3 separate regions of the Homo sapiens genome follow, and all the other regions are linked to region 2. Evidence: fine-mapped expression QTL. A gene starts in region 2. Each other region holds a variant in brackets. All regions are shown on one strand. Distances are from middle to middle.

Region 1 (10,334 bases), 180 kb after region 2:
GCATATAAATGGTGGCAACAAATTGCCTGGGTTCAAATCCCAGCTCTATCACTGATTATGTTTGTGAAATGAGCTAGTTACTTAACCTTTCTGAGTCTCAGTTTCACATGAGCAAAATGGGAGTGATGACACTTTCTAATAATATAACCATGAAGGTTAAATATGATCACGAACATGGAATGCTTATGTAAAGCCTAGCACATAGAAAGAAGCATTCAGTGAGTATTAGCTATCTGGAATTAAATGTAATGGGGCATAGGCTGGGCACAGTGGCTCACGCCTATAATTCCAGCACTTTGGGAGGCCAAGGCGGGCGGATTACCTGAGGTCAGGAGTTCGAGCCCAGCCTGGGCAACATGACGAAACCTCGTCTCTACTAAAAATGCAAAAATTAGCCAGGCATGGCGGAGTGCACCTGTAATCCCAGCTACTCAGGAGGCCGAGGCAGGAGAATTGCTTGAACCTGGGAGGCAGTGGTTGCAGTGAGCCGAGATCCCACCACTGTACTCCAGCCTGGGCAACAGAGCAAGACTCTGTTTCAAAAAATAAATAAATAAAAATGAATTGTAATGGGGCATAGAAGAGAAACTCATTTTTGTTGGGGAGGTGGGGGTCCAGAGAGGCTTCTTAGAGAAAAGGAACATCTGTGTTGGGCTCTGAAGGATGAAGAGTTCACCCGGAAAAGTGGCAGAGGGCATTCCAGGAGGAATGTATTTTGTGGACAAAGGCCCAGGGATATGGAAGGATATGACCTGTTTGGGTGTGGCTGAACACAGAGTTGGCTGAGAGGAGTGGTAGGAAATGAGGTTCGAAAGGCAGTTTTGAGGGCCTCCAGTGCCTTGCTATTGAGGGCAGACTTTAAAGGACTGGGGAAACAGAGCAGGAGTTTAAGGGCTGGGAAGGGACAGGATTATACCTATTTTATTTTTATTATTTATTTATTTAGAGATGGAGTCTTGCCCTGTTGCCCAGGCTGGAGTGCAGTGGTGCAGTCTGCTCACTGCAACCTCCTCCTCCCAGCTTCAAGCGATTCTCCTGCCTCAGCCTCCCAAGTAGCTGGGATTATAGGCATGCACTACCACGCCCACCTAATTTTTTTGTATCTTTAGTAGAGACGGGGTTTTGCCGTGTGGGGCAGGCTGGGTCTCGATCTCCTGACCTCGTGATCTACCCTCCACGGCCTCTCAAAGTGTTGGGATTACAGGCGTGAGCCACGGTGCCTGGCCTTATTGCGCCTATTTTAGAAAGGTGATTCTAGCCGCAGTGTGGAGCGTGAGCTGTACGAGGAGAGCCTGGCTGTCGGGGAGCAGATCTGAGCACGCTCCTCACCAGCCCTAGCTCAGGCTCGGACCTCTCTGACTTCCTGCCTTCCCACGTGCTCTTGCCTCTGCTTAGAGTATCTTTCCCTTGACTTTGCCTGGCTAACTCCTTGCCCACCTTCAGGTCTCAGTTTAGCCAGCACTTCCACCCGGAAGCTCTACTAGACACCCCTCCCAGTCCAGATTAGATGCTCCTACTTACTCCTCCTCTGTGCTTGCAGACCTGCCCACCTGCCTGCCTCGTCGACTGGACTCTGGCCAAGGGCAGGGACTGTGTGGCACTGCTCACTGCTGTATCCACAAGGCCCTAAGGCATAATGCCTGGAGCCTCAATCCATGATCGGTAGGGAACGAATGAATGGCTAAGCCTGTTGGGGCAGGTGTGATAGTTTGAGTGAAAGTGACAGGGTCTGCGGTGGCAGCGAGGAGAGAAGAGACACGATAGAATTGACGGGACCCAGGAATCATGAGAGGAGAACACAGGGAGAGAAGAAGGAGTTGGTGATGACTCAGAGGTGTTTTTTTTTTCACCTGGGTAAGCCCTGTGCCTCTAACCAAGATAGGAGCCATGGAGGAGGGGGTTGGAGGGAGGGAGGGAGGAGTAGGCCAGGGCAGAGGGGCAGGGCGGAGCCTTACCTTGGTAGGAGACTGGGGCCCTGGCCCAGGCCGTTCCTTGGAGTATTCTTCCCTTCTGGGATGCTGTGCACACTGATGGATCCTCAGCAATGTCTGTGACTGTCCAAATGCTGCCACCTTGACCACTCTAACTCGGCTGCCTCCCCTACAAATTATTCTCTACCAATGCACTCTCTCCACTTCCTCCCAACTCTCATGATTGTAATCGTGTATCCGTTGACTTGTATTTTATTCTCAGTGTGTCTTCCTCACTAGATTGGAAGTTCCATGAAGGCAGGGATCTCGCTGGTTTTATTGACCATGTATACCTGGCAGGCTCCCTGGCACATAGTAGGTGCTCAAAAAATATTTGTTGAATGAATGAGTGATGAATGAATGAATGAATTCTTTGAATGCCATGATAAAGAATTTGACTCTTAGCCTCCAGGAGACGGGGATCCATGGAAAGTTCTAAAGGAAGGCAGTGTCAGGATGCAGCTCGTATTAGAAAGCTCACCCTGGTCGCTGTGTGGAAGATGGATTGGGGAGGGAACGCGGGAGACTAGAGGAGGGGGAATTGAGGAGCCACTGGGGGAGACAAAGACATAGCACTTGGGGCTGGGCCTGGGAGCCCCCCTGCCTGTGAGGGCCCTGAGCCCCCTCCCAGTCCTTCCCCATCCCCCTGCCAGGCCTGTTGTCTCTGAGCCCAGCGGCAGGCGGGCGGTGGGAAGAGCAGGGCTGGCAAAGCTGACACTCACTAATCACGGCCCTCACCCCGGAGCCGCACTAACTGTCTGGTCTCCATGGAGACACGGCAACCTCCGGCCACTTGTTAATGGCAGCTCAACAAGGCTGCAGCGACAGGGACGGGCCTGACCAGCGTGCCCAGCTCCACACTACCTGTCCCAGCCTGGCCCTCTGCAGAAGACCTCAGGGGCACCAGACCTGGGGGACAGGACCGGAGGTCTGGTGGCTGGACGTCTCCCCAACCCCTCCGTGGCCCCGCCTCCCCTGGCACTGCCAAGCAGCGAGAGGGCAGAGGCAGCCTCTGCCCAGGCTGACTCCTCTGCAGGGCTGCTGGGAAGCTGAGCTCATGCAGGTCACCCAGGCAAGGCCAAAGGGCTGGAGGGGGATGGTGAGGAGTGGAGCGGGGACCTGCCCACAGCCCACACACTAGCAGAGTGGAGGAGGGCGTGCTTTGCCTGCCCTGACAACCCTCTGCTCTGCTAGCCTGAGGCAGGGGCCCAGTTGGGAACCATCTGTCCAGAACCTCTTCCCGGTGCACTGTCACTACATCTGAAATGCCACCGTTAGCAACGCACTCCTTCGGGAGGCAGCATGGCATAGCACAAAAAACACTGGTTTTGCCGTCAAGCAGGCTTGGGTGCAAGGCCTGACTCTGTTTCTCTACCTCTAAGCATTGATTTCCCCATCTGTAAAATGGGGGTAATCATTGCACATACAGGCTAACTCTTCCTCTTCCTGGAAACCTGAGCTCATTACCTGTGATGCCTCCCCCAGAATCTTCTTCACCCCCACAAACCAGCAGGGCCTCCTCCACAGTCCCCGGGCTCATCCCACAGCATGCTGCACCTGCCTGTGACTGTCCCACATTTGTCCTTCCCACAGACTGAGCCCTGTGGGGTTGGGCAGAGTGAGCCTCAGGAGAGGGTGGCGAAAGAAACAAAGGAAGGGCATGGGGGCCTCCCTCGGTCTTCTGCCTTTGCACCCTCCTTCAGTGCAGGTTGAAGACTTTCTTTCCTTCTCTCCTTCAGACCTTTGTTCCTCCATCTGTGTGTCTATCCATCCGGCCTGCAAACTCTCTCCAAGCCCTTCCCTTTTGCGGGACCTCAGAGAGGATGCAGATCCCACCCCAAACTAAAGGTGAGGCAGAGACCCAATTCCAGGGCTCTGGACACCTGAGGCACACCCATGGCTGGCTGGGGACCTTGGCACAGCTGCCTCCTCCCTCGGTCACTCCTTAGGCAACACTCCAAGCTGAAAAGGCCCTTGGAGATCATCTCCTCCTTTCCACGACAGCCAGCCAGATGAAGAAACTGAGGCCTGGAGAGCCCAAGATCCCATAGCAGTTCTGTTTTTGAGCTGACAATGTACCAATTATGCGGGCCTGCTGGGGAGGCGGCTTTTGGCTCTCCCGGCCCTGCTGACAGCTGTGTTCCCAGTGGCAGCTGGAATGCTGGTGGGAGGCCTGTCTGGCCTTTGCACCCTGACTCCCCAGGGCAGAGCCAGGTGGCTCTAGTGGGGCCCAGGGCTGGGAGGTGGTGTGGGCAGACAACCCTGAAGGGTGAGTTGGGGCATGGGATGGCTGGAAGAGAAGGGAGGCAGTACTGATTTTGGAGACTAAAGCAGAAGCCCTGAGGTCTTGTTCCAGCTCTGTCACTCTCTTGCTGGGTAACCTTGGGTGGATTGTTTGACCTCTCTGAACCTTAGTTTTCTTATTTATAAAATGGTGCTAATTTTGTAGATTGAAAACCTTTTATCAATAGTTGTAGCCATACAGAGGTGAAGAATTTTTATTGTTGGGCTGAAAGGCTAAGATTCCAGAGGGGAAGGGACTAGCCCGAGGCCACAGAGCACTGAATTGGATGCAAGGATTTGGACCTGGAGGAGTGTCCAGTCCAT[A/T]CTATCCACTTGCTGAAGGGGCAAATAGAGCCAGAGAAGGGGAGCAAGTTCCCCAAGGTCACTCCGTGAGTCTGGGGCCAGTGTGGGCCCAGAGCCAGGCTGTGCACGAGGTCCCCTGCCCAGCTGCCTCGCTTGCTCATCCAGCCCCCTTGGTTTTGTCTCCCCCAGTGAGTGGGCGCAGAACGGGCCCAGCTTCCTTCCTGCCGCCCTGCCTGCCGTCTGCCACGTTGGCATCCACCCTCAGCCTTCTCGCCCCTGCTGCTGCTGCTGCTGATGCGGCATCAGCCGAGACCAACCCGCCGAGAGTTTGCCCAGAGCAGTCAGGGCTGCCGGAGCCGGGGCTGGGCTGGCTGGCTGACTCTGCCAGACAGGAGGGAGCGAGCCAGCCGGTGGAGGGAGGGAACAAGGGCTGAGCCAGCCCCCAGCCTTCCCAGCCCTTCCCCACCCTCGCCGGCCAAGGGAAGGAGGCAGGAAGCTGGGGTTGGGGGCCAGGGGACTGCAGTGTCTGAGAATGAGGTTCCGATAGCTGGGTCTGTCTGTGGGAGCATGCACACATATGTGTGTGCATGGAAGAGCACGTTGGGGTGGTTTGTGAGTCTGTGTTTGCCTCAATGTGCACAGGTGATGATGCTATGTGTGTGGGTTTGTGCCGACATCGGGGGCCACTGTGTGTTTGTGTAAGCACAAGGGAAAGCTGTATGCCCTGAGTTTGAACGCAGGCCTGTGTACAGAGACGTGCGAGATCTAGCAGTGTGTGCACATGGTAGCAGATGGGCACCACGTCAGTGCCAATAAATCTTTGTATGCACAAAAGAGTCGGTACATGTGCCTGAGTTTGTGTATGTCACATCTGGGTGTGTTGGGAGCCCCTGTGATTTTATGGTGTACAAGAGGATAACAGCATAACTGTGGGTTTGAGCTTGTCTGTGTATGTGCAAGGGACAGTGTGTGTGCAGAAGGGAACTCTGCAGGTGGCTGGGATTTTGTGCATGTCTTGTGCCCAGGAAGGCACAGTACTGGTGGTGTGGGCTAGTCCAAATGTCCAGAGGATGGGTATGGGCGCCTCTGTGCCCAACAGACTTTGTCTGTGTGGTTGTTGAGAGTGACTCAGGGGAACACTGTGTGACTGTATATGCTTGGCTGTGTGTACAGGGAACAGGCAGCACAGGCATTGTGTTTCTGTGGTTGCATTTACACAGGGCGGTGGCGGCGGCGGTGGTGGTGATGGTGACGGTGCTGTGCTACAGGTTTGCACTTGTTTCTCTATGTGGCAAGGCCCTGCGTGTGACTGCGTTTGTGCGTGTCTGTGAGCACGGTGCGCTGGAAACTGCGTGCTTGGGTCTGTGGCAGGCTGAATGGAGGAGGGCGGAGGGAGTCCATGGCTATGTTTGTACTTGTCTGTGAGCCCGGGGTCAGATGCGCTCCATGTGCTACCTCCTGTGTGCACAGGTGGCCGCTGTGTCCAACCGTGTCTTTGTGTGTTTCGGGTTGCCTGAATGTGCACAGGCGGAGGACATGGAGGGGGGGATTTGAGTGCGTGCCTGTGCAGGCCCCTTTAACGTGGCAAGTCTAAGAAATGTCGGCCTTCTTGGCAGCGAATCTGGGCTTGGTTCCACTGGGGGCGTCTGCAGAGAGGGGCTCTTAGAAGGGACGTGCTTGAGCGAGAGAGACAGGAAGGGAAGGGGGGGCCAGCCCCAGCTCGGGGTTTCCAGGAGGGAAAGCCAGACATTGGAACTTGTCAACGCTACCTCCTTCCCTGCCCCCACCTTCCACTGCTGCCTCCCCTCCTGGCGCCTGAAGGCTGCTGGCAGACGGACAGACAGACAGACAGTGCACACATAGACTGGCTCATAGGCACAGAGCCCAAACCTGAGCCCCTAAATGCACAAGCCTGGACACTGAGGTCCAGAGAGGGCAAAGGAAGTAGCTGAGTCTCGGAGGAGCACATGTGTTTATGCATGTTGGGGGCAGGGGGTGCTGTTGGCCTCTGGTGCTTCAACCCAGACTGGAGCCCAGGCCTAGGGCGGGGAAGAGGCTGTGGAGAGCCTCTGGGGAGGGGCTTTTATGGCTCTAACCAGGCCCTCAAGGCCCCCAGCTCCTCTCCCTGTTTATACAACTGCTGCAGTGTCTTTGAGAGTCCTGTTGCCTCAAAAAAACACCTACCGCAACTCCCTGTTTGTACAGAGGCAGAAAAGACCCAGAGAGGAGCAGCAGCTGATCCAGGGTCACACAGCAGAACCAGGACTGGAATCCAGGGCTCCTTCTCCTAGCTGTGCATGTTGGCCCATGGGCCACTTAGTCTTATCTTTCCCTTGGTCCATTTATCTTTTCTTCCTCCCAGGTCTTCGGGATATGACAACGACCTCTTTTTTGTGTTGCTTTTGTTGCCCAAGTGATATGTCTGTCTGCCTGTTAGTCCATCTGTTTGTCACAGGGCTTCAATACCCTCTGGCAGAATACGGAAGAGAAGAGGGCTTGGTTTTTGGCCAAGGGCTATTGGAGAGATAGGGGTGGGATGGGGAGACAGAGAAACAGAACGAAAGGAATTTGAGACGAGAGGAAGGAGGAGAGAAGAGCAAGGGGAGGGCACTGGCGGCAGAGCTGAGAAGCCCAGGCTGCCCTTTACCTCCACCTCCAGCCTGGGCACAGGGGCGAGCTCTGAGCTCAGAGACTCTGAGTCCTGCCTCTTGGGGCCTTGGGGAGAGGACCCCAGGGCTCCTGTAGGGTCTGGGCCCAACCCCCAAACCCTGGGGGCAGCTGGGTTGGAGTCCTGGGGTCAGTATTCGGGGTGCAGGTGTGGGGTGCAGTGACCGAACTGCCCTCATGGGAAAAGGAGGGAGGGGATTGCAGGTACCTAGGGGGCATGAACCTGGGCATGCGTTGACTTAGTGTGTGTGGTCTCTTTGCAGCAGGGTTGTTGAGAGTGTGCGTGAGGTTGCGAGTACGCTAGGACTCTGTGTGGACACCTATGAACATACATGACCCAGTGGCAGACAAGCTGGGATTTCAGTGGGGAGGGGAAGGACTGCAGGAATGTGTGTCTATGACCGGCAGGGAGTGGTTGTCTATGTGTGGAAGGATTTGTGTGAACCTGCCTTACATGTTCTTGGGGAGGCTGTATCCTGTGTATGTAGGCAGGTGAACTGTATAGCTCTGTACAATTGTGTGTGGTGTGTGTGTGTGTGTGTGTGTGTGTGTGTGTGTCTGGATGAATATGTACCATGTGTTTGAATTGCTTAAGTATTTACATGTTAAATGTGTAACTGCATATAAGTGTGGATGTGTATACATGTTTGTAATTGTCTTGAGGTATATGTGTGGAGTTACCTGTATGAGTCTTGCCTGTAGGTTGTGTGTGCAGTTGTGTGTATTTGTGGAGCAGTGAATATTAGGAAGCTGTTCACATGTGCGGTTGTGTATTTTGGGGGATTAGGTTATATGTGTCGTTCTTTTTGGATGGAGTTTCACTCTTGTCACCCAGGCTGGAGTGTAGTGTCAGGATCCCGGCTCACTGCAACCTCTGCCTCCTGAGTTCAAGCAATTCTCGTGTCTCAGCCTCCCGAGTAGCTGGGATCACAGGTGTGTGCCACCACGCCTGGCTAATTTTTGTATTTTTAGTAGAGACGGGGTTTTGCCATGTTGCCCAGGCTGGTCTTGAACTCCTGGCCTCAAGTGATCTGTCCACCTCGACCTCCCAAAGGGCTGCGATCACAGGTGCGAGCCACCGTGCCTGGCCTATATTTGTGGTTCTTAAGGCTATACTTTATTTTTTATTTTTTGTTTATTGTCAAACTTCCCCTGTCAGAATGTAAACTCTATTAGGACTGAAATTTTTATCTATTTTGCTAACTATTTTGCTAATCTATTCCTAGTGTCCAGAATAGGGCCCAACACTTAGTAGGCACTGTATACATATTTCTCCAATGAATGATGAATGAAAGTGTGCATGCTTGGCAGGGTGTGGGAAGTGTGTTAGGTGTATGAATCGTGCGTGTGTGTCTGGGTGTGTGAATGGATAAATTTTTTGTGTCTTGAGTGTGTGAGGTTTCTAGCATAAGTGGCCTATGAACCAAGTACGTGCACAGGTGCATGTGTGTCTAGGCGTGTGACTGTGTACCTGAAGCTGGGCCACGTCTGTGAGCATTGCACACAACTGTGTGCATGCACAGTTGTGTGTGCTTGTACATGGGGGTGGGAAGGCGCTGTCGGCTTCTCCCAGCCTTCAGCACTCACTCAGCTTCACCCCAGGTCGCCTGCTGCGAAATGTCAGTGGCAGAGAAGCTAAAAATATCTGCTCTCCTCCTTCTGCTCACTGCTTGGGCTGATGGGACTGTGGGGCCCCAGCCGGCCCCTTGGGCCCTGCGGGGAGGAGGAACTGCTGGATGAGGGGGCGGGGCACAGGGGAAGGAAGGGAGGCCCTCCTTCGTACACACCCTTCCCCCTTTCCTCTTGGGCTCCAAAGCCAGGCTTCAGGCTCACCTCTTTCAGGAAGCCCTCAAGAACCCCCCAGGAGCTGTGTGTGTCTGTGTGTCTGTCTACCTGGCAAGGAGATATGGCCCCCATCAGACTGGAGCTCCACAGAGCAGGTCTGTGCCTCTTCTGCCCATCCAGGGACTCCAGGGGACAGAGCTCTGTCTCCTTCAGGCCAGGGGCTCCCAGGGAAAAGGCTGGTGCTGTCTCCTCCCTAAGCCTGAGGGTTACGGATGCAGCCCAGGCCAGACAGGGCTTCACTGGGCTCTGGTTCTGGGGCCACTAGGGCCCTCTGACCCCAGGGCAGATCTGCTGTGATGATGAGCTTGTGGGTAGGGAGGAGTCTCAGCTCTGCCCACACCACACCCTAGGCAGGCACGTGTTTGTGCTATGGGTACTTGTGTGGGTGCAGGTGGGACATGTCAGGGCCCGTGGTCCTCTGGGGACCTGTGCCTCTCCACATGTCGGGCTCCTGCCTGCATCAGTGGTGTCAGCGACTGCCTGCCTTGGGCACTGTGGTCAATCGGTACAAGTTGAGTGTATTGTATGTTTCTCTGTGTTCTTTTTTTCTTTGGAGGGGGGGACGGAGTCTCGCTCTGACACCTCCCGAGTAGCTGGGACTACAGGCGTGTGCCACCACACCCGGCTAATTTTTTGTATTTTTAGTAGCAAGAGGGTTTCATCATGTTAGCCAGGATGGTCTCGATCTCCTGACCTCAGGTGATCTGCCCGCCTCGGCCTCCCAAAGTGCTGGGATTACAGGCGTGAGCCACCACACCCGACCTTCTCTGTGTTCTTGTGTGTGCACATGGATGACTGTGTATGTGGGTTTCTGCCTTTCATTGTGCAGGCCTGCAGATACTAGCAGGGATGGACTCTGCATTCATGTGGGAGTTGCTGATGTCACCATGGGGGGTTTCTGTTTGTGTGTCAATGTGCTCGGGTGTGTGTCTCTGTCAGAAGGTCAGTGCCTGTTTGTTCTGTGTATGGAGGTGTATGTAGGTGCATCTGTGTGTCAGTGTTTCAATTACCATGTTTCTGTGTGTCTGTGTGTCTGTCTTCCTGGTTGTCATTATGTCTGCGGTACCTCCGTGCCTGTGTTGCGTGCCTAGGTCAGTTTGATTTTGCAGGTCTGTAGGGCCACGTGTCCCTCTGTATGTTGGTGTTTTCCATGTGGGTTGGAATCTGCCTCTGCTTTTCCTAATCTCCCACCATTTCTGTGTGGAAGGCCTCAGGCATTGTGTGTGTGTGTGTGTGTGTGTGTGTGTGTGTGTATGTGTGTGTGTG
Region 2 (10,238 bases):
CCCCATTATGAAGTCCATAGGCAGAGGGCACACGTGGCTTCCATACCCAAACTGCAATTCCTGGTCCTCTTGCTGGAGACCCTAGAGGTAGGTGGCTATAGATGGAGCCAGTGAGGCCTAGAAATGGGGAGCATGTTTCCTGTTCCCAACCAGCGAGGTGTCAGTAAATCACCAGGAGCGCGGAGCAGCCCCTGCCCGGGACCATAGCTGGTGATCCCCCATAGTGGGCAACCATGCCCAGCCTGCTTCCTTGATTGGCCAAGTTTGGGGTGAGGGGGTGGTTGGGTTTTCCTTAGGGATGGCAGCCCTATTGGGGTCTGTGGGTGCTCAGGGCTGCGGGCCGCATGCCTGCTCACCAGGCCCTGCCCACCTATGCTCGCTCCTTTCTCTCTGTCAGCGTTGGGGCCTTCGTGAAGACCTGGCTGCCCTTCATCCTTCTCCTGGGCATCATCCTCACCGTCAGCCTGGTCTTTAACCTCCGGTGATGGCTGCTCGGTGGCCCCACACCCACCAGGGTCCCGAGGAAACAGCCGCCATCCCTTTTGGTTCCAGATTTTTTTCTCCTCACCCCAAAAGGCAGGGTTGGGCCTGCTGTTGTGGACCGGGGGTCGGGGCTGGCAGGATGGAAGGACTGAGGACCAGCATGAAGTGGGGGTTTGTTGTCTCCCTGCCTCTCAGAAGCACCCTGTCCCCTCCTCCCCAGGCCTGTGACTCCGGCCCTGGAAGCCCCTTTGTTCTTCTGTTGAAAGGCTTTGGCTTCCCGCTGTAGAGCTGCTCCCGCCACCACCTGCTGGGGTCCTGCCTCAGCCCAGTGCCCAGTATGGGGAGAGGAGGACATTTGGGCTCACCTGTCAAGGTGGCCCTGGGACCAGAGCTGGTCCCAGCATGGGGTGCACCGGGTACACTTAACGTGTCTCTATAAGCCAAGTTGCTTCAGGACCTTCACCACTGGCCTCTAGAATGGTCCAGAGGGGCTGGCTGGGTCCCTTTGTCAGACTCCTGCCGGCAGCTGCCCTGGGGGACATGTGTGCCCATCTGGCATCCTCCAGCCCGTGCAGTCCGCTCTTCACTGTTCCACGGCCTCCCAGTGCCTCCCAGCATTGGACCCATCTCCCCCTGCAGTTTGAGGCCAGAGAGGTGAGTGGACCTGACAAGTGCCAGAGTAACCGTGTAGACAGAGCAGTGTAGACAGCACTCAGCCCCAGCCCCAGGTGTGGACCTCATGCTGGTGATGGCTCCCCTGGGTGGCCTGCCAGCACAGCCAGTGCCATCAGGGAGCTGAAGGGGCTGTCCCCCACCTAACTCCAGCTCCCCCTTCACGTTGTCACCAAGGCCCTGTGCCGCCCGCCTCGCCCCCCTGCTCTGTGGATTCCTTTGGGAAGGGCTCCCTGGGCAGGACAATAAAGAGTTTTGACTCCAGTTGGTGCCCTGTCATTGTTTTCTCCCTCTCTGGGGCCCCCTTGCCCCTTAGCTCATAGCGTCTTGGTATTCTTGGGACCCTATTACCCTTGACAAGGGTCTAGTTGCCAGCACCATGGTTGAGTCTGCGTCCAGTGCCTGGGGCCATCAGCATCCCTCAGGTATATCCCGCCCCTGAAGTCTGGGGATTCCCTGCCATTCTCCATTCCCCATTCCAAAGCTTTCCTCTTGAGGCAGGTGGGCATTGAAACCCCTTCCATCGTCCCTGTTGGGAAGGACTTGTAGGCTTGGGGTTAGGGCTGAGTAGAGCCTCCACTGCTGTCCCCACCACCCGCCGGGGTACAGAGTTGGGGATGAGCCAAGAGCACTGCCAGCCTCTGGTCACTGTATCCATCCAGCCTTCGCTTGCCTCCGATCCTTTGCTCTCCACCATCCCTCTCATGGCGGCCCTGCCTAACCAAGGCCCAGCTTAAAAGCCGCTTCCTCCCTGAAGCCTTTCCCAACCCTGTCCATGCATCACTTCAGTTGAACTAGCCAAGGATTTGGTCTTGAACGTGGCCTTGAGGACATGCTCTAGCAGCTGGCCATGGGGTCCCTGGTCAGGCATCTGCCAGCTCACCCCAGACCCTGCAGTGCTGTGGTCTGCAAGCCTGGGACTTCTCCAGGGCAAGGCAGAGGTGACCTCTCCCCACTTCAGAGCAGTTCCATTTACTTTTCTTTTTTTTCTTTCTTTCTTATTTATTTATTTTTTGGAGACAGAATCACTCCGTTGCCCAAGCTGGAGTGCAATGGCACGATCTCAGCTCACTATAACGCCTGCCTCCTGAGTTCAAGTAATTCTCGTGCCTCGGCCTCCCAAATAGCTGGGATTACAGGTGCCCGCCACCACGCTGGGCTAATATTTGTATTTTTAGGAGAGACGGGGTTTTACCATGTTGGCCAGGCTGATCTCGAACTCCTCAGGTGACCCACCCGCCTCAGCCTCCCAAAGTGCTGGGATTACAGGCATAAGCCATTACGCCTGGCCCCAGCAATTCCATTTTCAAAAACCTGTTTTGCATATTGGGTCCATCCGAGAGTTGGTTGAGGGGGGACAAATTCAATACTGAAGACAGGCCGGTTGCGGTGGCTCACGCCTGTAATCCCAGCACTTTGGGAGGCTGAGGCAGGCGGATCACGAGGTCAGGAGAGCGAGACCATCCTGGCTAACACGGTGAAACCCCGTCTCTAATAAAAATACAAGCACTTAGCCGGGCATGGTGGCGTGCACCTGTAGTCCCAGCTACTTGGGAGGCTGAGGCAGGAGAGTGGCATGAACCCGGGAGGCGGAGCTTGCAGTGAGCCGAGATCGCGCCACTGCACTCCAGCCTGGGTGACAGAGCAAGCCTCCGTCTCAAAAATAAAAATTAAAAAATAAACCAAAGACAGCCACAGTAGAATAGATAGAAAAAAGGCTTAAGGCCTGCGTTAGCCTAGCAGAATTTAAAATTTGCCTGGGGGAAACAGGACATAAAATTGTGCCATAGAAGTCACCAACAGGGTCAGCCACAGTGTCCAGCACTTTGGGAGGCCAAGGCTGGAGGAGGGAGGGAGCCCAAGAGTTTGAGACCAGCCTCGGCAACAAAGTGAGACCCCATCTCTACAAAAAATTAAAAAATAAAATTAGCTGGGCATGATGGTGCGTACCTGCAGCCCCAGCTACTACTCAAGAGACTGAAATGGGAGGATAGCTTGAGCTCAGGAGGTCAAGGGTGACAGAGCAAGACCCCGTCTCTCCCTCTCTCTCTCTCTTTTTTTTTGTTTTGTTTTTTTTTTTTTTTTTGAGATGGAGTCTTGCTCTTGTCACCCAGGCTGGAATGCAATGGCATGATCTCAGCTCACTGCAACCTCCGCCTCCCGGATTCAAGCGATTCTCCTGCCTCAGCCTCCCGAGTAGCTGGGATTACAGGCGCCTGCCACCATGCCCGGCTAATTTTTGTATTTTCAGTAGAGACAAGGTTTCGTCATGTTGGCCAGGCTGGTCTCAAACTCCTGACCTCATGATCCGCCTGCCTCGGCCTCCCAAAGTGCTGGGATTGCAGGTGTGAGTCACCATGCCCGGCCTAAGGCCCCGTCTCTTAAAAAAAAAAAAAAAAAGTCACCAACAGTTAGCGAGTGCTTACTCTGTGCTAGGCCTTGTAATAAAATACCATCTTAGCCTCACAACAGCCCTGCAACAAGGTAAGTGCCATCATCCCATTTTACAGATGAAGAAGTAAGCAGAGAAGTAGTGATTTGCTCCGGGTCACAGAGGTAGGAAGAGTGGAACTATGGTTCAAACCCAGCAGCTGGGCTCCAGAGCCCCCACTCAGAGCCACCCTGTGCGATGGCCTCACTGGAGCACAGGAGTGGAAATGAGAGGTGCTGTGATGCGAAAGGAGAATGGCCGCGGAGGTGAAAAACAAGCTCTCCTGACAGCAGCAGGCCTGTGAGATGGCTATTGTCCCCACTTCATAAAGGAAGAGAGTGAGGCTTACAGGGATTGTCATTGATCCCAGGCCACAGGGAACCATGCGGCAGAGCCAGATTTTAACCCAGATCTGCTGGCCTCTAGGACCCTGCCTCTTAATGTCCCTCTTAACAGAGGGATGTTGCCTAGAGACTGGCTGCAGCGCAGGGGCACTGAACTCTGGAGGAGGCTGAGCTAGTCCTGGAGCTGGGGAAAAGTATTCCCACAGGGAGCACAGAAGGCCCAGGGGTGTTGAAGGACAGGAAATAGCCCACAGCTAAGGCTCTACGGGTATAGGTGACGAAGGGGAGAAAGCCAGAGTAAGGGCAGCAATCCTGAGGGTCAGGCTGAGGGCCAGGCTGTCCTGGGAAGTGGTGAGACTTCCATCTCAGGACGTGTCTAAAGGGGACTGGACTGGTTTAGAAATGTATGAATGGGCCCGAGGGATGGCCTGGCTGTCTGCTGGCACCTTCCAAACCAGAGGATGACAAAGAAAAGTACGTTTGAAAGTTGTGCAACATAGGGCCAGAGTGGCCTTGTGTGGCCGCAAGGAGGCAGGAGAAGAGGAGGCTTCCAGAAGAGGCTGAGCGGGGACTGAGACCTGGGCAGGGGGAGGACAGCAGAGACACACAGATGGGAGGGCACCTGGAGTGAAGTGTGGACAGCATCTGGAGGTGGCAGGAAGCAGCAGGAGGCCAGGGGCCAGGATGATGGGGGCTGGTTACAGAGGTGGAAACTTGGAAATAGGTTTCAAGTGGGGAAGAGGCCAGAGGAATGCAGGTTGAGACACAGCAGGAGAGATGGCTGGAAGTATCAGCGTCAGGGAGTCACAGCTATAGGAAGGACAGGAGAGCAGAGAAAGGAAGGGAAATTTAGAAACCCGAAGACCAGATAATGAAGTTTCATGCCTTCCAGGAGGAAGAGCTGCTAAGGAGGTGAGAGGAGGGCAGAGAAACATCCTTGGGGGCGCCAGGACCAGGATGGCAGGAAGGGGTGTGGATGTTCTTGGCCACTCTCCTTCCATTTTGAGGGCCTTAATGAAGGAGGCAGCATCACAGTAATGGTCCCACAGCAGCTGCTCCATGGGTATTGCATGTGTGGGTGCATAAATGCATTAATCAAGAGTACTGGGGTCTGGGCAAGGTGGCTCACGCCTGTAGTCCTAGCACTTTGGGAGGCTGAGGCAGGCAGATCACATGAGACCAGGAGTTCGAGCCCAGCCTGTCCAACATGGTGAAACCCCATCTCTACTCAAAATACAAAAATTAGCCAGGCGTGGTGGCGGGCGCCTGTAGTGCCAGCTACTCGGGAGGCTGAGGCATGAGAATCACTTGAACCCAGGAGGCGGAGGCTGCAGTGAGCCAAGCCAGCCTGGGCGACAGAGCAAGACTCCATCTAAAAAAAAGAAAAAAAAAAGTCTGCAAGGATCTCACTGAATTTTAGTGAAAACCCTCTAAGGAGAGATTACCCCCATTTAACAGATGAGAAAAATAAGATTAATTTGCAAAAAATAAGTAGGGAAGCCTCCACTGTGGTTCTGAGGTGGAGGAGGGTCCTCTGTCTCTCAGTGGTGGTGGGAGTCGGTTCTGATTACAGGAAGGAAGAGTGGGTGTTTAGTTTTCTTTTCTTTTCTTTTCTTTTTTTTTTTGTGACGGAGTCTCGCTCTGTCGCCCAGGCTGGAGTGCAGTGGTGCGATCTCGGCTCACTGCAAGCTCCACCTCCCAGGTTCATGCCATTCTCCTGCCTCAGCTACTCGGGAAATAGCTGGGACTACAGGCAGCCGCCACCACGCCCAGCTAATTTTTTTTGTATTTTTAGTAGAGATGGGTTTTCACCGTGTTAGCCAGGATGGTCTTGATCTCCTGACCTCGTGATCCACCCGTCTCGGCCTCCCAAAGTGCTGGGATTACAGGTGTAAGCTACCACGCCCAGCCTTGTTTGCTTTTCTGAGACGGAGTCTCGCTGTGTTGCCCAGGCTGGAGTGCAGTGGTGCGATCTCGGCTCACTGCAACCTCCGCCTCCTGGGTTCAAGCGATTCTCCTGCCTCGGCCTCCCGAGTAACTGGGACTGCAAGCACCTGCCACCATGCCCGGTTAATTTTTGTATTTTGAGTAGAGACGGGGTTTCACTATATTAGCCAGACTGGTCTCAAACTCCTGTCCTAGAGTGATCCGCCCACCTCGACCTCTTAAAGTACTGGGATTACAGGCATGAGTCACTGTGCCCAGACTGGTTTTGTTTAGAATCCACCCCTTGTCCTGCCTCTCCCAGGGGTCTATGAGGAGCCCACTAATCTTTAATCCATGGCCCTAGGTTCAGGGGAGGGGGTTGGGCCAGGGCAGGCCATGGGAAGTGAAGTGGACTTGGGGGGAGTCAGAAAGCTTTGGTGTGGCCTCTTGTGCCCAAGACAACCCAGGAGGTTCATGGTCCTGAAGCCAATGTAATCTAGGGCCCAAACCTTCTAATCTCAGGGTGGGCAGAATCTAGGTGTAGAATGGGGTGAGTTCAGGGGGGCTCCACATAGACAGAGGGTGTGGGACCCTCACCTTGGCACTAGAAGAGTTCAGGCCTCCTCAAACAGATGGGGCTCAGGACAGCAGAGGGGACAGAGAGGGCTGCTCTGCCAGCATGTCCCAGAAGTGCATGTGGATATAGAGGGCAGCAGCTGCTGAGATGGCCGTGGGCATTAGGCTATGCTGGAGTGGGGACACCTCACCCCGACTATGCCAGCTCGCACCGGGCACTTTCACTTCCCTTAGTATAGGCTCCTTGCACTCTGCTACCCACAGTTTGCATCAGAAGAAATGGAAGAGACCTGCTTAAGGTCACATCACACACCCACTGGCAGAGCAGGGACTCTGCACAGGGTGGTCTAACTGCAAAGTCTGCCATCCTGCCATTCCCCTTGGGGCTGGAAAAGAAAGGTTTCTAACTTGCTTTCAAAGCGAGTTCCTATCAGCCCCGTTGTGGGCAAGGTGGGGCTGCTACCCGTTCTAGAGGGCCTGCTCAGTGGAGCTGGGGCCAAGCTGGGCCTCTCCAGTCGGCTGCGGGGGCGCACCCCCGGGCGCTGGGAGTCCAGGCCCGGTTTTGCATCAGGCCCTGCCGAGGTGTTTCCTCCTCCTCCGTGTGGGGCAGCTGCTGGCTGGGCTGCCTGTTGAGTCAGCCTTCTTCCCTCACGGCTCTTCTCCCGGTCCCTGAAACTCGGCTGCCAGGGGAGCTGGAGCCACCTGCGAAGGTGTCCTCCCATACTGGACCCCTACAGGTAACACGTGTCGGTGCCAGGGTCCCCTGCCAGGGTCCAGAGACGCAGGCACTGCCACCTGGTATCCTGAGCACCCTCCAGCACCTTGGGGTTGGGGGAGGTGGGCACATGTCTGGAACTGGAACAGCTGGACAGATGGACAGACCCTCCTCTTGACCAATGGGTCTGTCCCACCGTGTCAAAACAGCAGAGAAGACCAAACTCCTACCTAACTCTGGTAGGAGATTCTGCCTCTGGTTGGTAGGAGAGGGGACTTCAGGGAGGGGGCACTGCTGAGGACGCTGGGCTGATGCCCATGGCCCAGCTCAGGCAGGCCTGAAGGACAGAAATAGGCTCAGTTCTGCCGAACGTCCCCCCGGCCTCCATCCACACTCAGACACACACACCTGGTGGCCCCCAAGGCACCAGGGGACACCCCACAGCACACAGCCCAGTCACACATACAGCACAGGAGGAAATGCACAATGCATACTGTACACACCCCACACGGCGCTGTCACCTAGAAAGTCACTGAACACACCACACAGACAATATAGTCACCATGCAGCATCACACTGCAACAGGACACAAAGACACACAGCAACTACACAGCTCACAGACTCACGCAACGCAGACATGCCCACCAGACTCGGACCCACACAGCCACACAACAGGGCACAGAGAGGGACGTGGGCTCACACCCCAATCCACAGGGGAGGCCGAACGTGGGCTCACACCCCAATCCACAGGGGAGGCCGAACGTGGGCTCACACGTTGGCCACAGAAGTCCAGGGAAACTGCTGTTGTGGAGCACACAGGTATCCACAGAGTGAATGCACACCGTGCAGCCGTGCTGAGGCCTTCTGCTCCTGAGGGTGTCAAGAGGGATCGCTGGGGCTCGGCCACTGACTCAGCTGGGAGGGGACAGAGCATAGCAGGCGGCGGACACAAGCCAGGACCTGCCCGCCAAGCTGCCTCCGCCGGTCTCAGCCCCACCTGGAGCCGTGGCAATGGAAGGGGCGGGGAAGAGAGGAGAGGCCGCCCAGTGGGCTCAGGACACAGCCCTGACCAAGTCATGGGCCCCTTGCCACGTCTACATGCCCCTCAGCGCTGGGCAAATGCTTTCTTTCCGGAGTCACTGTGGTACCTGAGCATGGGCTGCTGCGCTAGCCTAGGCCTCCACCGCCGGGACCCCAGCCTGGTCTGGGGAGAACTGTGTGGCCAGAACAGAGGGGCCCTGTGGCTCCAGGCAACAGGGCAGGGCTGGCGGCGGGGGCATCCCTGGGTTGGAGGCCTCCGTGGGAGTGGGTGCGGCAGTTACCTCAGGAGAGGAAGTTGGGGGTGTGGGCTGAGGAGGAGGTTGCCTCAGACAGGAAGGCCAAGTGGGCCAGGGCAGGGTGGAGGTGGTGGCAGGAGGGGACCCAGGCTGTGAGGTTCCTGGTGCGGGGGAGTGAGCAGATGTGTGTGTGTGTACGTGTGTGTGTGTGTGTATCTGTCTGTCTAGGTGGGTGGTTGTATGTGTGCATTCCCATGTGTGTGCAGGCATATTTCTGCATTTAATTAATCAAACTTTTACCAACCATCTGTTGTGTGCAAAGTAATGGCTTTGAGGGTGACTCCCTCTCCCTGCCTCCAAGGAGCTCACAACCCAGTTAGCCGGGCAATGTATGTGTGCCAAAGTCTGTATGATTTTTATGTACATCTTTATCGAGGGACATATTTGTCCCCAGACTTGTTCTTGTCTAGGTGAACCCATCCGGGTGGGCCTATCCCCATTGGTGTGCATATGCTGTGTGCAGGTTTTTTTGTTAGTTTTTGTTTTGAGACGGAGTCTCACTCTTGCCCAGGCTGGAGTGCAGTGGCGCCATCTCAGCTCACTGCAACCTCCTTCTCTTGGGTTCAAGTGATTCTCCTGCCTCGCTTCCCAAGTAGCTGGAATTACAGGCATGTACCACCATGCCCAGCTAATTGTTCTGTTCTTTTCATTTTTTTTGGAGGAGTTTCACTCTTTTTGCCCAGGCTGGAGTGCAATGGTGTGATCTCGGTTTACCATAACCTCTGCCTCCCAGTTTCAAGCAATTCTCCCACCTCAGCCTCCCGAGTAGCTGGGATTAAAGGCATGCACCACCATGCCCGGCTAATTTTGTATTTTTAGTAGAGACGGGGTTTCTCCGTGTTGGTCAGGCTGGTCTCAAACTCCTGACCTCAGGTGATCTGCCCGCCTTGGCATCCCAAAGTGCTGGGATTACAGGGGTGAGCCACTGTATCTGGCCATAATTTTTGTATTTTTAGTAGAGAAGGGGGTTTCACCATGTTGGCCAGGCTGGTCTTGAACTCCTGACCTCAGGTGATCGGCCCACCTTGGCCTCCCAAAGTGTTGGGATTACAGGCGTGAGCCACCGCGCCTGGCCACTGTGTGCAGATTTAAGAACATGTGTAGGGCCGGGCGTGGTGGCTCACGCCTGTACTCCCAGCACTTTGGGAGGCTGAGGCTGGCAGATCATGAGGTCAGGAGTTCGAGGCCAGCCTGGCCAACATGGTCAAACCCCGTCTCTACTAAAAATACAAAAATTAGCTGGGCGTGATGGTGCGTGCCTATAATCCCAGCTACTCAGGAGGCTGAGGCAGGAGGTTTGAACCCGTCAGGCAGTGGTTGCAGTGAGATGAGATCGTGCCACTGTACTCCAGCCTGGGCAACAAAGCAAGACTCCTCAAAAAAAAAAAAAAAAAAAAAAAAAAGAATGTGTGTGCATGTCTCTCGTGGGCATGGGTCCGGGTCTGTGTCTGCAGAGGGCCCTTTCTGGGGGAACAGCTGTGCATGCGCCTGTCTTTATGCAGGTGTCTGTGTGCATGTGCGACCATATCTATGCCTACATGGACCCGCGTGTGCACATGTGTCTGTGTGTTCCATCGCTGCAGTCCTGTGTGGCCCTACCTCAGGGTGTGTGCATGTGTGTCTCTTGCTTCTTCCACTGTGTCTCCAAGTGTGTTCAAGGGCTAGTGTATGCATGTGTGCATGAGTGTCTCTCACCCCACCTTGAGCTCAGCCATCCTGGGGTGGCACCCTACCCATACCCGGCCAAGTGTTTG
Region 3 (10,334 bases), 54 kb before region 2:
TCCAGCCTGACTCTGTCTCAAAAAAAAAAAAAAAAAAAATGCTGGGTGAATAAAAGATTAGCCTTCTAGTTAATTGGCTGTCCTTGGATTGAATGTTTCCTGGCAAATTTTCTGTGACTGAGAGGGTATCCCTTGAAGGTACTGTTTCAGACATATCTCTTTTTCTGTTTTTGTTTTGTTTTGTTTGAGACACGGTCTGGCTCTGTCGCCCAGGCTGGAGTGCAGTGGTGCGATCTCAGCTCACTCCAACCTCCACCTCCCAGGCTCAAGTCATCCTCCCAACCTCAGCCTCCCGAGTAGCTTGGACTACAGGCACATGCCACCACACCCAACTAATTTTTGTGTTTTTTGTAGAGATGGGGTTTCGCCGTGTTGCCCAGGTTGATTACAACTCCTGAGCTCAAGCAATCTGCCCAAAGCAGATTGGGCAGCCTCCCAAAGCACTAGGATTACAGGTGTGAGCCTCTGTGCCTGGCTGACATACTCCTTCTAATGGTAAAAGCAGAAATGTGTTTGGATCTCACTTTTACTGCTTTCTACTGTCTGAACTTCAGTTTACTTTTCTGCAAAACGGGATCAATGAAACTTGTCCTTTATGGCTCAGAAGTGCCCAGTATCAAGTGAGATCATGAATATGAAAGTACTTTATATATTGTAAGACGCTAGTCAGTTTAAGTCCACTTTGGCCACTCACATGCACTTGGAAAATATTGAAAATGGAAAGACTGGTTTACCTGTTCAGTTCCACTTCTTGGTGTTGAGTTCCCCAGGAGAACCCCTAACCAACTCTCTTCCTGTCTCTTCATTTGCTCCCCCAGGGTCACTCAGGATGTGTCAACTGTCTGGAGTGGAATGAGAAAGGAGAGTAAGTATGAGCTAGAGCACCTGAAGGGTGCTGGGGAAGGAAGTAAGGAGGGTGGAACAGCAAGGCTCCTCCTGAGAGGATCCAAGGAAAAGATTGGACCCAAATGAAAAGAGACTGCTGCTGTCTGCCGTTCTTCAGCTTAGCCCATAATTTTCAACACAATTAAACAATCTCAGATAGATGGAAAGTTGGATGACCATCCAAACCCTGTTTTGTTTTGTTTTGTTTTGTTTTAGAGACAGAGTCTCATTCTGTCACCCAGGCTGGAGTGCAATGGCGTGATCTTGGCTCACTGCAACCTCCGCCTTTCAGGTTCAAGCGGTTCTCCTTAATCAGCCTCCCAAGTAACTGGGACTACAGGCATGCGCCACCATGCCTGGCTAATTTTTTGTATTTTTAGTAGAGACGAGGTTTTGCCATGTTGCCCAGGCTGGTCTCAAACTCCTGAGCTCAGGCAATCCACCTGCCTCAGCCTCCCAAAGTGCTAGGATTACAGGCATGAACTACCGCGCCCGGCCCAAAACCCTGTTTTTTTAATAAGCCAATGTGTTTAAGAATGATAGAAATTTCTTGGCCGGGCGTAGTGGCTCACGCCTGTAATCCTAGCACTTTGGGAGGCCGAGGCGGGTGGATCACGAGGTCAGGAGATTGAGACCATCCTGCCTAACACAGTGAAACCCCGTCTCTACAAAAAAACAAAAAATTAGCCGGGTGTGGTGGCGGGCGCCTGTAGTCCCAGCTACTCAGGAGGCTGAGGCAGGAGAATGGCGTGAACCTGGGAGGCGGAGCTTGCAGTGAGCCGAGATCGCGCCACTGCACTTCCAGCCTGGGGGACAGAGCGAGACTCCATTTCAAAAAAAAAAAAAAGAATAATGGAAATTTCTCAGGACAAAATAGAAGAGAATCAGCTGTTTACAAGGCAACCTTAAATTCTGTGACATTTACTGTTCTTCAAATTCTGTAACCTAACTCCTTGTAAACTGAGAACATGGGATGGGGAAAGGGAGCCTAGGAATTTGAGGAGAGATCACAATCCCTCACTCTGCTTTCAGCTTGCTGGCCTCTGGTTCCGATGACCAGCACACGATTGTGTGGGACCCGCTGCACCACAAGAAGCTGCTCTCCATGCACACGGGACACACCGCAAATATCTTCTCTGTCAAGGTGAGCAGGACAAGCCACAGAGCAAGCACAAGCCACAGATCAAGCACAAGAGTGACTGGGCTGTGGCCACGCCATGTTGGTATGTGTGTGTCCCATATACCGTCTAGGGTCACAGACAACCTTATGATCTAAGTATCTGTTGGTGATTCCTGAAACCTCATTTCTCTTCCATGTTCTTCTTCCTCTTTTAGAGCTAAGCGGCCAATTCTAGATGAATTTATCTTTATGTGAATGGTAGTGGTGGGGGTATGGTTCTGAACGTGAACTTAGAGAGCAGGCATACCTGGGTTTGACTCCCTTATCTGCTTCTTGGGCATTGTGTGACCTGGGCAAATCACCTGACCTGTCTGAGCCTGTTTGCTCATCTGTAAAAAAGGAAGCAGCGAAGGAAAATCTCCCAGATTTGTAAACAAATTAATTTTTTTAAAAGGAAATAACAGTCTACAAGGTTGATGTGACAGTTCAATGAGATAATTGATAAAAATAAAGTCTGTGCCCAGTGCTTTTTATCTGTTCTACCCCTTCATAGGAAATGAATATTTTGATTTGTTGGAGGAGGGGAGTTGAGCGGAGGAGAGGTGAGAAGGGGACTTACAAGTGTCTTCAGACCTTTGAAGCTCTGTTGAAGCCCTGGAAATGACATGAGACATGTTTTTTTGTTGTGGAAAACAGACCTAGGACTAGTGGCTGTAAGTCCACAGAATTAAATGTGGGCCTGAGGAAAGAAAGAACTGTCTAATGCTTAGAGCTCTTTGAAAAATGTAGAATGGGCCCCTGGAGGAGATGAGTAAATGTCCTATCCCTGCACTTGTCCACTCGCCAGGTGCTTTATCTCCAAGATTTAAAGTTGGAAGAAATGGCCTGCAAGGAAGGGCCTTTCCAGCTCTGAGATTCTATAATGGATAGATGTGAGAATGAAGTTGTCCTTCGGAAACCCTCACTATTCTAAGAAATATTTTCGTAATTAATATCAAGAGGAATTACAAGATACCTGAACAAGATGATAGCTCCAAACCTACTTGTTTTCCTAAACCCTTTTTTCTTCTCAAGCTATGATTCTCGCCTTTAGAGACAGAACAATGATGATTTACCTCTTATATGACTAACGGAAACTGCTTTCTTCCCCTGCAAAGAGTTTAGGTCCAATTTTAGTCTGCACAGTCAGGCCTGGGGAAGGGGACCTAAGCCATTAGTTTAGCATCAGAGCACAAGACATTGATTTCTAACACCAGAATTTCATAATGGTCTTGATACTCCCTAACGGTAAGACCTTGGGAACGGCACTTACATGCAGACTGTCAGCCTCCTCTTCTATTTAAAAAAAAAAAAACAACCTGAAAAGGATTCTTCTTTCTTTAGGTAGTGGAAACACTGCAGATGTATATGTATTTAACTCATGCGCTCCCCCTGGTGGTGACTATGGTGTGTGATGCGTGTGGCAGCAGCCACAAGATCATGACAAGGGCTCCCCAGTTTATTTCTGCTGTGCATTGAGTGTATGCCGTCTCTAGACAGGATTAAAGACTACTGGTTGTCCCTAAAATAATTAAATCATGTCTATTTCATCTAGACCTTGGTCTTTTTTTTTTTTTTTTTTTTTTGAGGGTGAGTCTTACTCTGAATGTCGCCCAGGCTGGAGTGCAGTTGGCACAATCTTGGCTCACTGCAACCTCCGCCTCTGGGTTCAAGCGATTCTTGTGCCTCAGCCTCCTAAGTAGCTGGGATTACAGGTGTGCACCACCACACCTGGCAGATTTTTGTATTTTTAGTAGAGATAGGGTTTCACCATGTTGGCCAGGCCAGTTTCGAACTCCTGACCTCAGGTTATCCACCCACCTAAGCCTCCCAAAGTGTTGGGATTACAGGCATGAGCCACAGTGCCTGGCTAGACCTTGTTCTAATGGCCCTTAGAGAAGCCTATGTGGAAAGAGTGAATTGTTGTTCTTTGTGAACATTTAAAGTCAAGTGGGACATCAGCTGTTTCAGTGTAGGACATTGCCCCTCCCCCAACACTACCACTCAGCCTTGTTGTGGGTAGGGAGGAACTTTTCAATTTTAAAAAAAAGATATTTCAATTTTTTGAACTCACACGAGAATTCAACACCACTCCCAAATATTTTTTATCCTCAAAGTTATGTGATAGAACTACATACTTTCTTTCTTGTTTCTTTTCTTTTTTTTTTTTTGAGACAGAGTCTCGCTCTTGTTGCCCAGGCTGGAGTACAGTGGCAAGATCTCGGCTCACCGCTGCCTCAGCCTCCCGAGTAGCTGGGACTACAGGCATACACCACCACACCCGGCTAATTTTTTGTATTTTTAGTAGAGACAGGGTTTCTCCATGTTGGTAAGGCTGATCTTGAATTCCCGACCTCAGGTGATCCACCTGCCTCCGCCTCCCAAAGTGCTGGGATTACAGGTGCGAGCCACAGCGCCCAGCCCAGAACTGCATACTTTCTTTTTTCATTATTTGAAGCTATGGTTGCAGCTGTTTTTTTCTTATCAGATGTCATCTGGAGTATTTTGTTCTTGCCTTTATCAGGATGGTG[GTT/G]TTTTTTTTTTTTTTTTTTTTTGAGATGGAGTCTTGTTTGCTCTGTCACCCATGCTGGAGTGCAGTGATGCCATCTCAGCTCACTGCAACCTCCACCTCCCGGCTTCAAGTGATTCTCCTGCTTCAACCTTCCGAGCAGCTGGGATTACAGGTGCACACCACCACATCCGGCTAATTTTTTTTGTAGTAAAGACGGGGTTTCACCATGTTGGCCAGGGTGGTCTCAAACTCCTGACCTCAGGTAATCCGCCTACCTCGGCCCCCCAAAGTGTTGGGATTACAGGTGTGAGCCACGGCACCTGGCCGGTTTTTTTTGTTTTTTTTTTTAATAAATACTGCATAGAGATGTATCCTCTTGATGCTCAGCCCTTCCCTATTGTCCAACATTTGAGCTGTTTCCAATATTTGCTATTATAAGAGGCATCCAAGCATTTCTGACCAGGTCCCTTTTTTCTTTTTGGATTATTTCCTTTTTTTTTTTTTTTTTTTTGAGATGGAGTCTCGCTCTGTTGCCCAGGCTGGAGTGCAGTGGCGTGATCTCAGCTCACTGCAAGCTCTGCCTCCTGGGTTCACACCATCCTCCTGCCTCAGCCTCCCGAGTAGCTGGGACTACAGGCGCACGCCCGGCTAATTTTTTTATATTTTTAGTAGAGACGGGGTTTCACCGTGTTAGCCAGGATGGTCTGGATCTCCTGACCTTGTGATCTGCCCGCCTCAGCCTCCCAAAGTGCTGGGATTATAGGCATGAGCCACCACGCCTGGCCTGGATTATTTCTTGGAAGTGGAAGTTTTGAGTCAAAAACTAGAAATTGTTTTTAATCTTTGTTACTATTACCAGATTGTTTTTCAGAAGCAGTCAAACTAATTTAAAACACTCACTCCCAACAGGGCATTCTGGCTCATGCCTACAATCCCAGCACTTTGGGAGGCCAAGGCAGGTGGATCACCTGAGGTCAGGAGTTCGAGACCAGCCTGGCCAACATGGTGAAACCCTGTCTCTACTAAAAATACAAAAATTAGCTGGGCGTGGTGGTGCACACCTGTAATCCCAGCTACTCAGGAGGCTGACACAGGAGAATCGCTTGAACCCGGGAGGTGGAAGTTGCAGTGAGCCGAGATTGCACCACTGCACTCCAGCCTGGGTGACAGAGCGAGACGCTGTCTCAAAAAAAAAAAACAAAAAAAACCCACACACACCCATTCCCTTAAACACTCAAAGTCTTTTTCACTTCAGGACTAATTTATTACTTAATCTCTAGGTTACTAAGTAGTCATAATGAGGCAAGTAGGGCATGTGGGAGTCAGACAGACTTGGGCTTGAACACAATCTTGCTGTATATTACTGCTGAACCTCAAGGGTTTGTTTTGTTTTTTGTTGTTGTTGTTGTTTTTGAGACAGTCTCGCTCTGTTGCCCAGGCTGGAGTGCAGTGGCACAATCTCGGCTCACTGCAGCCTCTGGCTTCCTGCAGCCTCTGCCTCCTGGGTTCAAGGGATTTTCCTGCCTCAGCCTGCTGAGCAGCTGGGATTACAGGCATGAGCCACCGCGCCCAGCCTGCATGGGCTCATTCTCTTATCTGACATGGAGAGAGAAAAGGGTGCAGACATCCAGGCTAGCCTCCTTCCGTGGCCATTTCTACTCTTACCACCCACCCCTTCCTCCATTTCTCCTATATAGTTCCTGCCTCACGCTGGGGACCGCATCTTGATCACGGGGGCAGCCGACTCTAAGGTGCATGTGCACGACCTGACAGTAAAGGAGACCATCCACATGTTTGGAGACCACACAAACCGGGTGAAGCGCATCGCCACAGCGCCCATGTGGCCCAACACATTCTGGAGTGCTGCTGAGGATGGGCTTATCCGGTAAGAGTCTGGGGCATCTAGTGGAGCCTGTCGCTCCCCCATCCCATCATCCTATAGTGTTTCCTTCTACAGACCTAGCTCTTTCCCTCCAGCAGAGGTCCAACCTCCTTTGTCTGCCCAGGGCAGTTGTCTGTGTACAAACTCCACTGGGAACATTTGCTTACTCCGCCCTCACCTTCCTCCCTCTTTGCCCTCCTTTGTACTACCTCTAGGCCCACAAGCTTTTTCTCACCACCTCAGGTGTCCAGGGTCTCTACTGCCTCTGGGCATTCACGTTACTCTTTCCTCTACTTGAGATTCTCTGTCCCCAGCTCTTCCCATGTCGGACTCTTTCTTATCCTAAGGAGATCAGCTTCAGTTACCTCTTCAGAAGCACCTTCTCTGACCATCCTGTCTAAAGTAGACAGACGTTATGCTTGTTTTAACAATTATATCCTCTGTAACTCTAATTGCCACCTGTAGTTATTTTTATTAATTAATTAATTTTTATTTATTTATTTTTTTTTTTATTGATCATTCTTGGGTGTTTCTCGCAGAGGGGGATTTGGCAGGGTCATATGACAATAGTGGAGGGAAGGTCAGCAGATTAACAAGTGAACAAAGGTCTCTGGTTTTCCTAGGCAGAGGACCCTGCGGCCCTCTGCAGTGTTTGTGTCCCTGGGTACTTGAGATTAGGGAGTGGTGATGACTCTTAATGAGCATGCTGCCTTCAAGCATCTGTTTAACAAAGCACATCTTGCACCGCCCTTAATCCATTTAACCCTGAGTGGACACAGCACATGTTTCAGAGAGCACAGGGTTGGGGGTAAGGTCACAGATCAACAGGATCCCAAGGCAGAAGAATTTTTCTTAGTACAGAACAAAATGAAAAGTCTCCCATGTCTACTTCTTTCTACACAGACACGGCAACCATCCGATTTCTCAATCTTTTCCCCACCTTTCCCCCCTTTCTATTCCACAAAACCGCCATTGTCATCCTGGCCCGTTCTCAATGAGCTGTTGGGTACACCTCCCAGACGGGGTGGTGGCCAGGCAGAGGGGCTCCTCACTTCCCAGTAGGGGTGGCCGGGCAGAGGCACCCCTCACCTCCCGGACGGGGCGGCTGGCCGGGCGGGGGGCTGACCCCCCCCCCACCTCCCTCCCGGACGGGGCGGCTGGCTGGGCGGGGGGCTGACCCCCCCACCTCCCTCCCGGACGGGGCGGCTGGCCGGGCAGGGGGCTGACCCCCCCACCTCCCTCCTGGACGGGGCGGCTGGCTGGGCAGAGGGGCTCCTCACTTCCCAGTAGGGGCGGCCGGGCAGAGGCGCCCCTCACCTCCCGGACGGGGCGGCTGGCCGGGCAGAGGGGCTCCTCACTTCCCAGACGGGGTGGTTGCCGGGCGGAGAGGCTCCTCACTTCTCAGACGGGGCGGCTGCCGGGCAGAGGGGCTCCTCAGTTCTCAGACGGGGTGGTTGCCAGGCAGAGGGTCTCCTCACTTCTCAGACGGGGCGGCTGGGCAGAGACGCTCTTCACCTCCCAGACGGGGTCGCGGCCGGGCAGAGGCGCTCCTCACATCTCAGACGATGGGCGGCCGGGCAGAGACGCTCCTCACTTCCTAGATGGGATGGCGGCCGGGCAGAGACGCTCCTCACTTTCCAGACTGGGCAGCCAGGCAGAGGGGCTCCTCACATCCCAGACGATGGGCGGCCAGGCAGAGACGCTCCTCACTTCCCAGACGGGATGGCGGCCAGGCAGAGGCTGCAATCTCGGCACTTTGGGAGGCCAAGGCAGGCGGCTGGGAGGTGGAGGTTGTAGCAAGCCGAGATCACGCCACTGCACTCCAGCCTGGGCACCATTGAGCACTGAGTGAACGAGACTCCGTCTGCAATCCCGGCACCTCGGGAGGCCGAGGCTGGCGGATCACTCGCGGTTAGGAGCTGGAGACCGGCCCGGCCAACACAGCGAAACCCCGTCTCCACCAAAAAAATACGAAAACCAGTCAGGCGTGGCGGCACGCGCCTGCAATCGCAGGCACTCGGCAGGCTGAGGCAGGAGAATCAGGCAGGGAGATTGCAGTGAGCCGAGATGGCAGCAGTACAGTCCAGCTTCGGCTCGGCATCAGAGAGAGACCGTGGAAAGAGAGGGAGAGGGAGACCGTGGAAAGAGAGGGAGAGGGAGACCGTGGGGAGAGGGAGAGGGAGACCGTGGGGAGGGGGAGGGGGAGAGGGAGAGGGAGCTAATTAATTTATTTTCTGAGACAGGGTCTCACTCCATTCTATTGCCGAGGTTGGAGTGCAGTGGCGTGATCATGGCTCACTGCAGCCTTGACTTCCTGGGCTCAGGCGATTCTCCCACCTCAGCCTCCTGAATACCTGGGACTACAGACACGCTCCACCATGCTTGGCTAATTTTTCTATTTTTTTTGTAGAGATGGGGTTTCTCTGTGTTGCCCAGGCAGGTCTCAAACTCCTGGGCTCAAGTGATCCTCCCACCTCGGCCTCCCACAGTGCTATGATTGCTGGTGTGAGCTACCACACCTGGCCTTATTTTATTTTTACTTATTGGTTTACTTTTTTGTCTGTATCCTCACTAAATAGTAAAAGTAAACTCTCTTAGAGCAACTCCATGTCTGTCTTGTTCTTGGTTGTATCCCTAGAGCCCAGCACAGCGCCTGGCACATAGAGCCGCTTGATACATTTCTCTTGAACAGTTGGTCAGTGGCTATATACCTGGGAGGGGGCAAGCCACCCGGAAATGGTAAAATGGACTGTCCCCTTTTCCAGTGCCCTGCATTGTTACACATTTGCCTCTACTTCCCTTCATTCTAAAATGGTGTCGTTGCCCTTCTTTAACTCCTTTCTTCAGCTGTGACCTTAGAACTTCTTTCTTATCTCCCCAGCCTGCTTTAATCTGTCTCCCTTGAGTTCCTGTAGGACTTTGTGCCCTCTTTCCTTTTACAGATGAGGAATATCTAAGTCATATATAAATTATAACATAGTCAAGAGCAAGGCAGTGAAGTCAGACAGACCTGGGGTCAAATCCTAGCAATCGCACTCAGTATTTGACTGGGGTAAGTCACTGCATCCCTGAACCTCAGAAGACAGAATGCACTTTGTCAGTGGCAGGTCCAACTCTGTGTAGCACTTTTTGACCTTGGCTGACCAGATTTTGCCAGGGCCAGCTGGTAGAAGCGGAGCGTCTAGCGCATTGGGTAGGATCCTAAGTGTTTAGGCATAGGCACAGTCAGAGAAGGTGTCCTAGCAGAAGGTGAACATAAGCTGGGCCTTCCAGAACAGACAGGATTTGGATGAGCAAGGAAAAGCAGAGTGTATTCCCCAGCTTGAGCAGAGTTTGCAAAGGCAGAAATAAACATGGCATGTGCAGGATAAAGAATTCTGTAGTTATAATTGACCCACATTTAGAAAACTGAGGAATAAGGTTGGAGAGAAATGTGAAATTGAGTCTTGAAAACCAGACTGAGGAGTTTGGTAAAAGTAAACTTGTGCTAAAAGTATTGAGGAATCTCTGCAATTTTTTTGAGCAGGAGAGTGATGTAAAATAATATTTTAGGAAGAGCAGCCTGGTGAAGATGGCTTAGAAAGACAAGGTGAACAGCAAAGAGGTGATAACAGATGTCTAGGCAAGAGGGGAGAGCATATAGGTGATGTCCCCCCTACCCACCACTCTCTGAGGATACCTGTGTATTGGCAGCACAAAGTTTCCCCGTCTGGAGCGGTGGGAGTTTGCTGCTGTTTGGTAGACTTTTTGGCATTACCTTTACTGCGTGGATGAGACTTTTAGGCTTGCCTTGGCCCATGGTATATCTAGATAGCTCTTAGATGATCTGCAGAGTCTCTTTTCTGTCACCTCCATACCTTGTTTCATGAAAGAAACTAGATTAGGTAGGAACGGAG

Which allele goes with the higher level. Positions count from the first base shown, and alleles are read on the strand shown. Sizes are in standard deviations (SD) of each study's normalised expression. Not every link is listed here.
For the expression in monocytes of the gene that starts at base 7,041 in region 2, allele GTT in region 3 goes with a higher level than allele G (moderate effect, 0.62 SD a copy in Fairfax 2014).

The links. PIP is the estimated chance that this variant, and not a neighbour inherited with it, causes the effect. A credible set is the group of variants that fine-mapping cannot tell apart.
Region 1: its variant is the best candidate, but not a certain one, in a credible set for the expression of SYTL1 in whole blood (INTERVAL, PIP 0.67).
Region 3: its variant is the best candidate, but not a certain one, in a credible set for the expression of SYTL1 in monocytes (Fairfax 2014, PIP 0.73).

The regions. Positions count from the first base shown.
Region 1 is chr1:27,516,723-27,527,056 of GRCh38, forward strand. LOC105376892 (a long non-coding RNA gene) reads left to right here and starts at 5,765. Exons shown (of 2, transcript NR_188658.1): 1 at 5,765-5,824. RefSeq lists enhancers at 6,086-6,668, 8,580-9,218, 9,147-9,236. The variant A/T (reference allele first, on the strand shown) is at 4,578.
Region 2 is chr1:27,334,982-27,345,219 of GRCh38, forward strand. It overlaps SYTL1 (synaptotagmin like 1), which reads left to right and starts at 7,041. Exons shown (of 15, transcript NM_001193308.2): 1 at 7,041-7,169. TMEM222 (transmembrane protein 222) reads left to right here. Exons shown (of 6, transcript NM_032125.3): 6 at 398-1,419. The coding sequence ends at 485. RefSeq lists enhancers at 6,662-6,921, 7,452-7,501, 7,676-8,293, 8,292-8,381.
Region 3 is chr1:27,281,421-27,291,754 of GRCh38, forward strand. WDTC1 (WD and tetratricopeptide repeats 1) reads left to right here. Exons shown (of 16, transcript NM_001276252.2): 4 at 819-865; 5 at 1,918-2,029; 6 at 6,254-6,441. Among named protein-coding and RNA genes, the nearest start is that of TMEM222, 36 kb to the right of the region's middle. RefSeq lists a silencer at 3,365-3,444 and enhancers at 5,504-6,146, 7,820-8,805. The variant GTT/G (reference allele first, on the strand shown) is at 4,576.